Homo sapiens: one gene and its partner. The protein of the gene in region 2 purifies or fractionates together with the protein of the main gene of each other region. This does not show direct contact. Each region holds a gene or a part of one and is shown on either strand. Other genes may lie near its edges.

Region 1 (4,428 bases), on a different chromosome or scaffold from region 2:
TGAAGAAATTATCCAGAGTTTGGCATAGACGGTCAAAAAGGAAATATGAAAGAGAGTTTATGTGCACAGCGGACAGAGTAAGAGTGTCTAATGGATGCCTGTTCAATCAGCATTCTGGAAGGAGAAGAGTGAGAGAATAATAGGTCAGGGGAGAACTGAGGAGATAATAGTTGAGAATGTTCCAGAACAGAGGAAGCATATCAAAGGCATTGGTAAATATAAAGGTAAATGTTTTCTACACTTTTTCTTTCATTTTTTAAATGGACATAAAATAATGGTACTTACTTATGGGGTACACAGTGATGTTTTGATACAAATAATGCATAACGATCAGATCAGGGTAATTGGCATATCCAGCATCTTGAACATTTATCATTTGTGTTGGGAACATTCAATATCTTCCTTCTAGCTCTTTCAGACTATATAACTACGTAACATATATTGTTACCTACAGTGCTAAATCTTAAATCAATCAAGAAATATGCATAGAGGTGGGGGGAAACCTAAACCACAATAGCATGTAAGAAATAACACCTTCTAGCATCATTGTATTGTTTAAGTGCGTGTGTTAAAATAGTGAAGGTCACTGAGCCTGGCACAGGACCTGGTTGGTGGTGGCCAATTCCCTGAGTGTCTGCTGGATGAAGTTACTGAGCAGCGGGGATAGCTGGGTGTGTGTACAGCCTGTGGCAACAGCAGAAAGCACAAGATACCTAAATTCCATGGGGGAGAGCCCTAGACTACCCTTTACAGTCGTAGAACAGACTGAGAGGGTAAGTGCCTTGCCACCCTGGGACCCACCACTGGGACCCAGAGCCCACATGGCCCCTTGCTCATTTCCTCCCTCTGCAGGGCTGCAGTGGGATGATCTCATAGATGGGCAAACAGTCATCTGGGAACAGGCCATGACCATGTCCACCTTCCTGCTTCACCTTCTCCTTCTCTGTTCTCATCTAGGGTTCCTCAGGCTGTCCTGAACTCCCCTCTCTTCCTGCCCTACATTGCCTCCCCAGGTGGACCTCAACCAGTCTGGGTTTCGATTCTCATCTAAGTGCCACATTTACCCCTCCAGCCTTGGTCACTCATCTGAGCTCCAGGGCGGAGCCTCTCGATGCCCAGTCAATGTTCTCGTTTGTTGATCATAATACCCCTTCCCCTGCCGTGTCCCTGTGTCCTCTACATCTCAGCAAGTGACACTACCTTCCATCCCGTTCATAGAACCACGAACCTGGGACTCACCCCCTGACATCTCTCAAATCCAATGAAATGTCTCCAAAATATCTTTAAAATCTGTTTCTTTCCCACTGCCACTATCCTAGTCCAGGCCACCACCACCTCTTACCAGCCGTTTTCATTGGCCACTCGGGCTGCTCTATTCTCTTTCTGTAGCCAGACTGGTCTCTGTCAAGATGATCATCACACGATGTCAATCCCACATCAAATGATGAGCTCCCCACTGCCTTCAGGATGAAGTCCACAGTCCCAGATCCAGCCCTGGAAGTCCTTGTATGGCCTGGCCCCACCACCCCTCTAACCACAGTGACCTCTCCTGCCTCTGGGCTCTCCCCTACACAGTTCCCTCTGCTGCACTCCGCCTGCCACACACTGTCCCTCCCGTGGTTAGTTCCTACTCATCTCTCCACAATAGGTTTTGTTTAAATGTCTTCCCTGATACTCCAGGGTAGATCAAACCCCATTTCACACCCCAAGATTGCCCAGAATTTTTCCTTGGAAGCACTCATCGTTATAAGTAGTTAACTGACTTCTTGTGTGATTATTTGTCTGATATTTAACATGAGTTTTGCTCCCTATATCCCCAATGCCTCAGTCAGGACCTGGCACAGAGTTGGAACACAAAGTAAGAGCTCAGAAACAATGAGTTGGCCTATAATCCCAGCACTTTGGGAGGCCAAGACGGGAGGATCGCTTGAGCCCAGGAGTTTGAGACCACTCTGGGCAACATGGTGAAACCCCATCTCTACAAAAAAAAATACAAAAATTCACTGGGTGTGTGGCCATGCACCTGTAGTCCCAGCTACTTCGGGGGCTGAGGTGGAGGATCATTTGAGCCCAGGATGTCAAGGCTGAAGTGAGCTGTGATTGTGCCACTGCACTCCAGCCTGGGTGACAGAGGGAGACCTCATCTTAAAAAAAAAAAAAAAAAAAAAGTTGAATGTACAGCCAGGTCCTGGGGTGGACACCATAAACATGCATCTCACTCAACCTTCATGATTGCCCTGGAGCTGGGAACTACTGTCCCTATCACGCAGGAGGCAGTGCAGTGCAGTGGTTAGGAGCCAGGCAGCTTGGGTTTGCATCCTGGCTCTGCCACTTACTGCCTGTGTGTGACTCTGGGTGCATTACTTACCCTCTGATACAGTTTGGATATTTGTCCCCTCCAAATCTCATGTTGAAAAGTGACCCACTGTTGGAGGTGGGGCTGAGCCAAAAGTGTTTGGGTCATGGGGCAGATCTTTCAGTAGTGGCTTGGGACCCTCCCTGTGGTAATGAGTGAGTTTTTGCTCTATTCATTCATGCAAGAGCTGGTTGTTTAAAGAGACTGGCACCTCTTCCCCTCTCTCTCTCTCATTCTCCTGCCGTGTGACATGCCTGCTCCCCCCTTCACCTTCTCCCAGGAGTAAAAGCTTCCTGAGGCCTCATCAAAAGCTGAGCAGATGTGGGTGCCATGCTGATACAGCCTGCAGAACCATGAGCCAATTAAACCTCTTTTCTTTGTAAAAGATCTAGTCTCAAGTATTCCTTTATAGCAATGCAAAACAGACTAAAACACCCTCTCTGTGCCTCAGTTTCCTCATGTGTGAGAAAGCAGGTAATGACAGTATGTATCTACAGGGCTGCTATAAAGAATAAATGAATCAATAACATGTAAGTTTCTCAGGGCAATGTTGAGCACACAGTGAGTGATGTCAGCGTTAGTTATTGCTATCCTTGCTGCCCTCATCTGGAGTTTCAGAGATGGTGGGGACTTCCCCAAGGACACAGAATAAGCAAACAGTAGCACACTGGGATATGGGGGACAGGGACACAAGCAAAAGGTAAGTAGAGTCAAAATGGTTGCAGGTGGTCATGAATATTATGATACTATGGGGGACACACACAAGGAATTGTATAGGGAGCATCAAAGGAGTAGAGTCTTGCCTTAGAATGGGCAGAGGGGTTGGGAAGGCTTCCTGGAGGTGGCGACTCTGAACTGGAAAGCTGGCAGTGGGACTCTACTTTCTGGGGTGATATGATATCTGTGGCTTATTGCCACCTAAAGGCAATCGGCCCCCAGCCCATCTTGGTGGTCAGGCTGAAGACACACATCACCCTGTGGTGCTCAGACCTGTGCTGTGTGAGTTAGGAACACTCATAAATGAGGATCCTGAGCCAGTGAGCTGCTGTTTACTTATTCTGTGTCTTTGGGGAAGTCCTTTAACTCTCTTGTCCTCAGTGCCTAGCACAGTGCACAGTAATGACTCATTACAACACAATAAATGGGCACGGGAAATGGGGGAATGTCCCAGGCTCTAGTTTCAAACCACAGCTCTCCTTCCCAGCATACTACACGCCCCTCAGCCACCTGCTGTTCATGTGTTTTGACCGACACCTCCCTCCCTGTCCCTCAGCACTGTTAAAATAGGTGCTGGCACAGAGCAGGTGCTGGCACAGAGAAGGTGCCCAGTGAATGCTAACTGACTGCTCAAGTCCATTCCTTTCAGTCAAAAAACAAAACTTCAATCCACTGGAACCGGCCCAATTGACCAGAAGCCTTTTGAAAAAATAAGCATATGCTGTATCAAAATATTGGAATCACACAATTATGACAATTCACTTAAAGAGGCAATTAGCACACTTAAAAATAACTAAGCACGCAAACATGAACATGCCTCTTCTGAATGCAATCAAATCCTACATGCATGACACTGAACACTAAACAACTTGTCCTGAGTACCTACTATGTGCCAGGCACTGAGCCCAGCATGTCCATGTACCTTCTCCATTTAGTTCATATGTGTTCTGTAGAGAAGTGATTATTATCTTCATTTTGCAGATGAGGGACATGGAGCTTAGAGAGTAGAGGTGTCACATAGCTAGTAGGTCCTGGTTGTGATTCAGACCCTGGTCTTGTGACTCCAAACCCAGCATTTTCCTACAGTAGAATTGGCCGTTCCATGGTGCCTAATTTTCTCTCTACCACTGGCATCCTCATGAAAATATAGAAAGAGATGCTAAGTCGTAAGAGCTTTGCCAGTTAAAAATATTAGTAAAATCTTACAGGAAATCTGCAAAGAGTTACCTCTTCATTTCCACTCGTTCTTTCTTAAACCCACTCCAATCATGTTTTCATCCCACTTCCACCAAAACTGCTTGGGAAGGTCATCAATGACCTCCATCTTCCTAAATCCAGTGGCCAATGCTCAGTCT
Region 2 (5,806 bases):
TAATCCCAGCACTTTTCAGAAGCTGAGACGGGTGGATTGTCTGAGCTCAGGAGTTCAAGACCAGCCTGGGTAACATGGTGAAACCCTGTCTCTACAAAAAACACAAAAATTAGCTAGCTGCGATGGCATGTGCCTGTAGTTCCAGCTACTCGGGAGGCTGAGGTAGGAGGACGGCATAAGCCCAGGAGGTGGAGGTTGCAGTGAGCTGAGATTGCACCACTGCACTCCAGGCCCTATCTCCAAAAAAACCAAAAGTTACTCAAAATAATTTCTCACTCTGTGGTTATACAACCAACTTGATATAAGCTTCAGTTACTTCATTTCTATGTTTAAAAAAATCTCTTGTAAAAATTTAACTTTTTTTTTTTTTTTTTTTTTTGGAGACGGAGTTGCATTATGTCACCCAGGCTGAAATGCAGTGGCGCGATTTTGGCTCACTGCAACCTCCGCCTCCAGGGTTCAAGCGATTCTCCTGCCTCAGCCTCCCAAGTAGCTGGGATTACAAGTGCCTGCCACCATGCCCAGCTCATTTTTGTATTTTTGGTAGAGACAGGATTTCGCCATGTTGGCCAGGCTGGTCTTGAACTCCTGACCTCAGGTGATCTGCCTGCCTCAGCCTCCCAAAGTGCTGGGATTACAGGTGTGAGCCACCATGCCCAGCCAAACTTTTTTTATAATTATGTAATACATTTATATGGTTACAAAGTCAAATCTATAAAGTCTCACCTCTCTCTGCATCCTGTTTCATCCCTTCCTACTGGAATTTTTAAAAAACTATGCTTTATCCTTCCATTTAAAAAAAATTGGTCAGGCGTAGTGGCTCATGCCTGTAATCCCAGCACTTTGGGAGGCCAAGGCAGGCAGATCACTTGAGGTCAGGAGTTTGAGACCAGCCTGCTCAACATGGCGAAACTCTGTCTCTACTAAAAATACAAAAATTAGCCGGGCATGGTGGGATACACCTGTAATCCCAGCTACTCACCCAGGAGGCTGAGGCAGGAGAATCGCTTGAACCCAGGAAGTGGAGGATGCAGTGAGCTGAGATCGGAGATTGCACAACTGTACTCCAGCCTGGATGACAGAGTGAGTGAGACTCTTGTCTCAAAAAATATAATAAAATATCTATTTTATATTTCCATCTTTTTAGATAAACCACAGCACAGCATGTACTTTCCTTTATACTGTGCTGTCTTCGCTTACCAGCATATCCTAGCGATCTCCCATTCCTGTCTCAGCTCCACGGTCCTTCATTATATGGATTAATTATATAAATATGGATTATTCCACAGGTCCTCTCCTGATGAACATGTAAGTTGTTCCCAGTCTTTGGATATTACAGTGTTGCATGAATAGCCCTGTGCTATTTCTTTTCATATTTTTGTCAGCGTATTGTTAAGATAAATTCCTAGAAGTGAGATTGCTGGATCAAAAGTAAACGCATATACTGGGACAACTGGATATCCACAGGCAAAACAATGAAGCTGGACCCTTACTTTACACAGTATACGAAAATTAACACAAAATGGACCAAAGACCTAAACTTAAGAGTTCAAACTATAAACCTCTTAAAAGAAAACACCAGGGAAATCTGCATGATTTGGACTTGGCAACGGTTTCTTAAATAGATACCAAAAGCACAGGCAATAGTAGAAAAAATAGATAAATTGGACTTCATTAAAATGAAAAACTTTTACCATTTAATACTCATTAGGATGACTATTTTATTTTATTTATTTATTTAGAAATGGAGTCTTGCTCTGTTATTTATTTATTTATTTAGAAACGGAGTCTTGCTCTGTCGCCCAGGCTGGAGTGCAGTGGTGCAATCTCGGCTCACTGCAACCTCTGCCTCTCGGGTTCAAGTGATTCTCCTGCCTCAGCCTCCTGAGTAGCTGGGATTACAGGTGCACAGCACCATGCCCGGCTAATTTTTGTATTTTTAGTAGAGATGGGGTTTCACCATCTTGGTCAGGCTAGTCTCGAACTCCTGACCTCATGATCTGCCCGCCTCGGCCTCCCAAAGTGCTGGGATTACAGGCGTGAGCTACCGCGCCTGGCCGACTATTATTTTTTTAAACAAGTGTTGGCAAGGATGTAGAGAAATTGGAACCTTTGGTGCATTGCTGGTGGGAATGTACAATGATGCGGTCAATGTGGAAAATAGTTTAGCTAGTTCTTAAAATGTTAAACAGACAATTATCATATGACCCATTAATTCTACTCCTGGGTATATATCCAAAACAACTAAAAATAGACTCAGATACGTGTATGCAAATATTCACAACAGTATTATTCAGAAAAGCCAAAATACAGAAACAATCTAAGTGTCCATCAGCAGATGAGCTAAAGGCACTATGTCCAAACAATGGAATATTATTCCACTATAAAACGGAATGAAGTTCTGATAGACACTATGGCAGGGACAAACCTCGAAAATATGCTAAGTGAAAGCAACAGACACAAAAGGGCAAATATTGTATGATTGTTATTTATATATGAAATATCTATAATAGGTAAATTCATAGACAGAAAACATATAAAGGTTACCAGGGACTGAGGAAAGAGAGGAATGGGGGAAAAGAAAACAAAGTAAATGCATAGGTAATTTTGCTAGACATTGCCAAATTCACCTCCATGAGGGTGGTACCACAAGCACCCCACCAGCAATGCAAGAGAAGGTCTGTTTCTGAAGTCCTCACCAATGCAGTATATTGTCAGACTTTTGGATTTCTGCCTGATTGTTGACATGTTATCTCAGTGCAGTTTTAATCTGTATATTTTCTTACAATAAAACCTTTAAAAGATCCTTTCTAATTATGTTTTAACATGCTGGTATTGGTTCTTAAGTAATTACCATGAGAATTCCTTAGATAAATATTCTAAAACATTTATAAATTAAAGAGAATCAGCAAGGGAGAACCACACACATACATGTCATGGCTATTACAAATTCTAATTCTGGAAACAAAATTTTAAAAATTTTGCATAGTGCCACAGGTGAGCAGGTACTTAACTACCAGTACCTGCCATAGGCATAGTACTCTGCTAAGCAAACACTTAACAACAGAAAAGCCCAATTAACACTTGATAATTCTAGAAATTAAACACACTGTCACCCAATCATAACCCTTTTGCTTTGATTAGAATTATTCTAGCTAACTTTGGCAGTAAAACTGCCAGTGTACATGTTACTTCTCTAGAATTTTACTATATAGCCTGAGATATAAGATCAAAAACAAAGGAAAATGATTAATTTGTCAAAAGAACTGAATGATACAACAACTTTACCTTTCCATTTAGCAACCAGTTTAGGATCTGAAATTGTGAAGCTTGGACGGCTTCTTGAAAGAATACCTTTTCCAAAATAACCCTTCCAGGAAGAGAGAAAATGAAGTTAGTTCATGCTTAGTTACCAGTTTTTTAGCTGAGGTAGAATATACAGTAATCCCTCAGTATCCACAGGGGGCTGGTTCCAGGACCTCTGGTGGATACCAAAATCGGCAGATGGTCGAGTCCCTGATATAAAATGGTGCAGTATTTATATATAGTCTACGTAGGCCCTCCCATATACTTTAAGTCATCTCTAGGCTACTTATAATACCTAATGCAATGCAAATGCTATGTAAATAGTTGTTATATTGTTTAATATAAGAAAATAAAGTCCCCGTTTGGTACACATGCAATTTTTCTCCCAAAATATCTTCAATCCAAGGTTGGGTGAATCCACGGAAGTGGAACCCATGATATGGAGGGCCGACTGTACCCATCTGAGTTAACAAGAGGTTCGCCCCACTTTTCATGTCTTTACATTTTCCCTCTGATTATCTAATGATGACTAAGGATGTTCTTAGCGTAACACCTTTCTAATCGCTTCAAGAGTACTAGTAAGTTTTTAGCACACCTCATTTATCCCATAACTAATGCTTTCAGTCTAGGTCTGATAAGCCGAGGGCAGGCAGAGGCAGAGTTTCTTCTCTACATATGGTTCGGGAACACAGTGTGCCTGAAGGCAGGAGCCATGCTGCCCACTAGGTCCAAAAAAACCTCTTGGATTCTTTTGTACTCCAGAATTGAAGTATTCCTCTCATTCCTGCTGATTCCAAAAACAACATGTATTTTTCCCCTTTTCATTACAAAATATTTAAACACACAGAAAATTGAAAGAATAAAACAAACACCCCTTTCTCCATTTAGATTAACAATCAGAATAAAGAGGCCAGGTATGGTGGCTCACACCTGTAATCCCGGCACTTTGGGAGGCCGAGGTGGGCAGATCACTTGAGGTCAGGGGTTCAAGACCAGCCTGGCCAACATGGTGAAACCCTGTCTCTACCAAAAAATACAAAAATTAGCCAGGCATGGTGGCATGCGCCTGTAGTCCCAACTACTCGGGAGGCTGAGGTGGTAGAATCACTTGAACCTGGGAGGTAGAGGTTGCAGTGAGCTGAGATCATGCCACTGCACCCTAGTCTGGGTGACAGGGTAAGACTCTGTCACAAAAAACAAACAAAAAAAACACCCAGCAACAACAAAAACCAAGAATAAATAATGCATACAGCACTTTATAAAGCCTCTTGCTTAATGTTATATACTGTAAATGAAGGCCTCCCTGGTGAGCTGCCCTTGGCCTACTGAGACTCCTGCCTCACCATGGCCAGTGCCACCCACTCTTCTATCAAGTGTCTAGAGAAGGCACATTTATGGAGACAAGACGCCATTCCGTGGCTGCCTTGGGCCGGGAGTGGGAGCAGGGATTAAGTGTGATGGGCACAAGGGAACTCTGTGGTGATGGGAATGTTCTAAAACTGGACTGTGGTGAGAGTTGTGCAACTCTATAAATTTATGACAATCACTGAATTGTATACTTACAATGGGAGGACTTTATAGTTGTAAATTATAACTCAATAAAGCTGTTTTTTAAAAATGCCCACAGCAATGAACAGATTATGGAAAATTTTTTTTAAAGAACTACCAGTCTTCATTCAACTTGATCAATGCTGGAAAACAGTAAAAACTAGAACTTGTCCTCATCTGAGAAGAGGTCCCCAACCAGGAGGCAGCAGATAAGGAGCTCCATGCCAAAGCCCCATCTGATCCGTGCCTGAGTAGGGACACTATGCCACGCTGTGGCTACCTCTGGGAACGGGATGGGAGTGAGTGGGGAATTTTCACTTTTTTACCCATTACATTTCTGTAAATTACTTTTTTTGTTCCTTTAACAAACATGCATTGCTTTTACAACTAAAGACAAAAAAAATAGTCAATCCATTGAACCTACTTCATCACTGAAATAAAGGTTTGTGGGCAGGGGTGCTCCATCTGTCATTCTATTACCCTAACATATGGCTTTTGGGCACTAATTCAAATTGTACTTTTCCTACAACTGGACCAAACCGCAAGGAAAGAATACACATTGTTCATGGTTGGTGTGGGGGTATGGCTGGGATGGGGAGAAGGAAAGGACTGCTTGCTCAGGGTTGTCTGAAAGTAATCTTACCAAGGCTGCCTGCACTTACTTTCCCATAGAGCTGCTCAATGTCCTCCGCATTCCTCACAATCACATTGTTGTTAATCATTTCAGCACGGAATATCTTGAATTCTTTCAGAGGACCATGGTCCTGACCAAAAGGGATTGGCAATGGAGACTCGTAAGTCTCATACACTCTTCTTTTCCTCTTTGGGGCATGGAAAACTGCTTCTGCCATTTTTCAGAGGAGGTATTCTTTAAAGAGTAGACAACAAACAGAAAGAAACAGACAATCAATAACTACCTTGATCCAAAATGTGAGTACATCTGTACCTAGGC

The links.
Region 1: the proteins of TSEN2 (region 2) and TOX2 purify together in Homo sapiens (affinity purification with mass spectrometry; one large-scale study listed by BioGRID and IntAct). This does not show direct contact.

Annotation. Positions count from the first base shown.
Region 1 is NC_000020.11:44,000,924-44,005,351, reverse strand, and holds part of TOX2 (TOX high mobility group box family member 2), read right to left. Parts: intron 1-4,428. UniProt on the Homo sapiens protein: Putative transcriptional activator involved in the hypothalamo-pituitary-gonadal system.
Region 2 is NC_000003.12:12,489,700-12,495,505, reverse strand, and holds part of TSEN2 (tRNA-splicing endonuclease subunit Sen2), read right to left. Parts: intron 5,723-5,806; 5' UTR 5,706-5,722; coding exon 5,517-5,705; intron 3,371-5,516; coding exon 3,289-3,370; intron 3,278-3,288; exon of another isoform or gene 1,201-3,277; intron 1-1,200.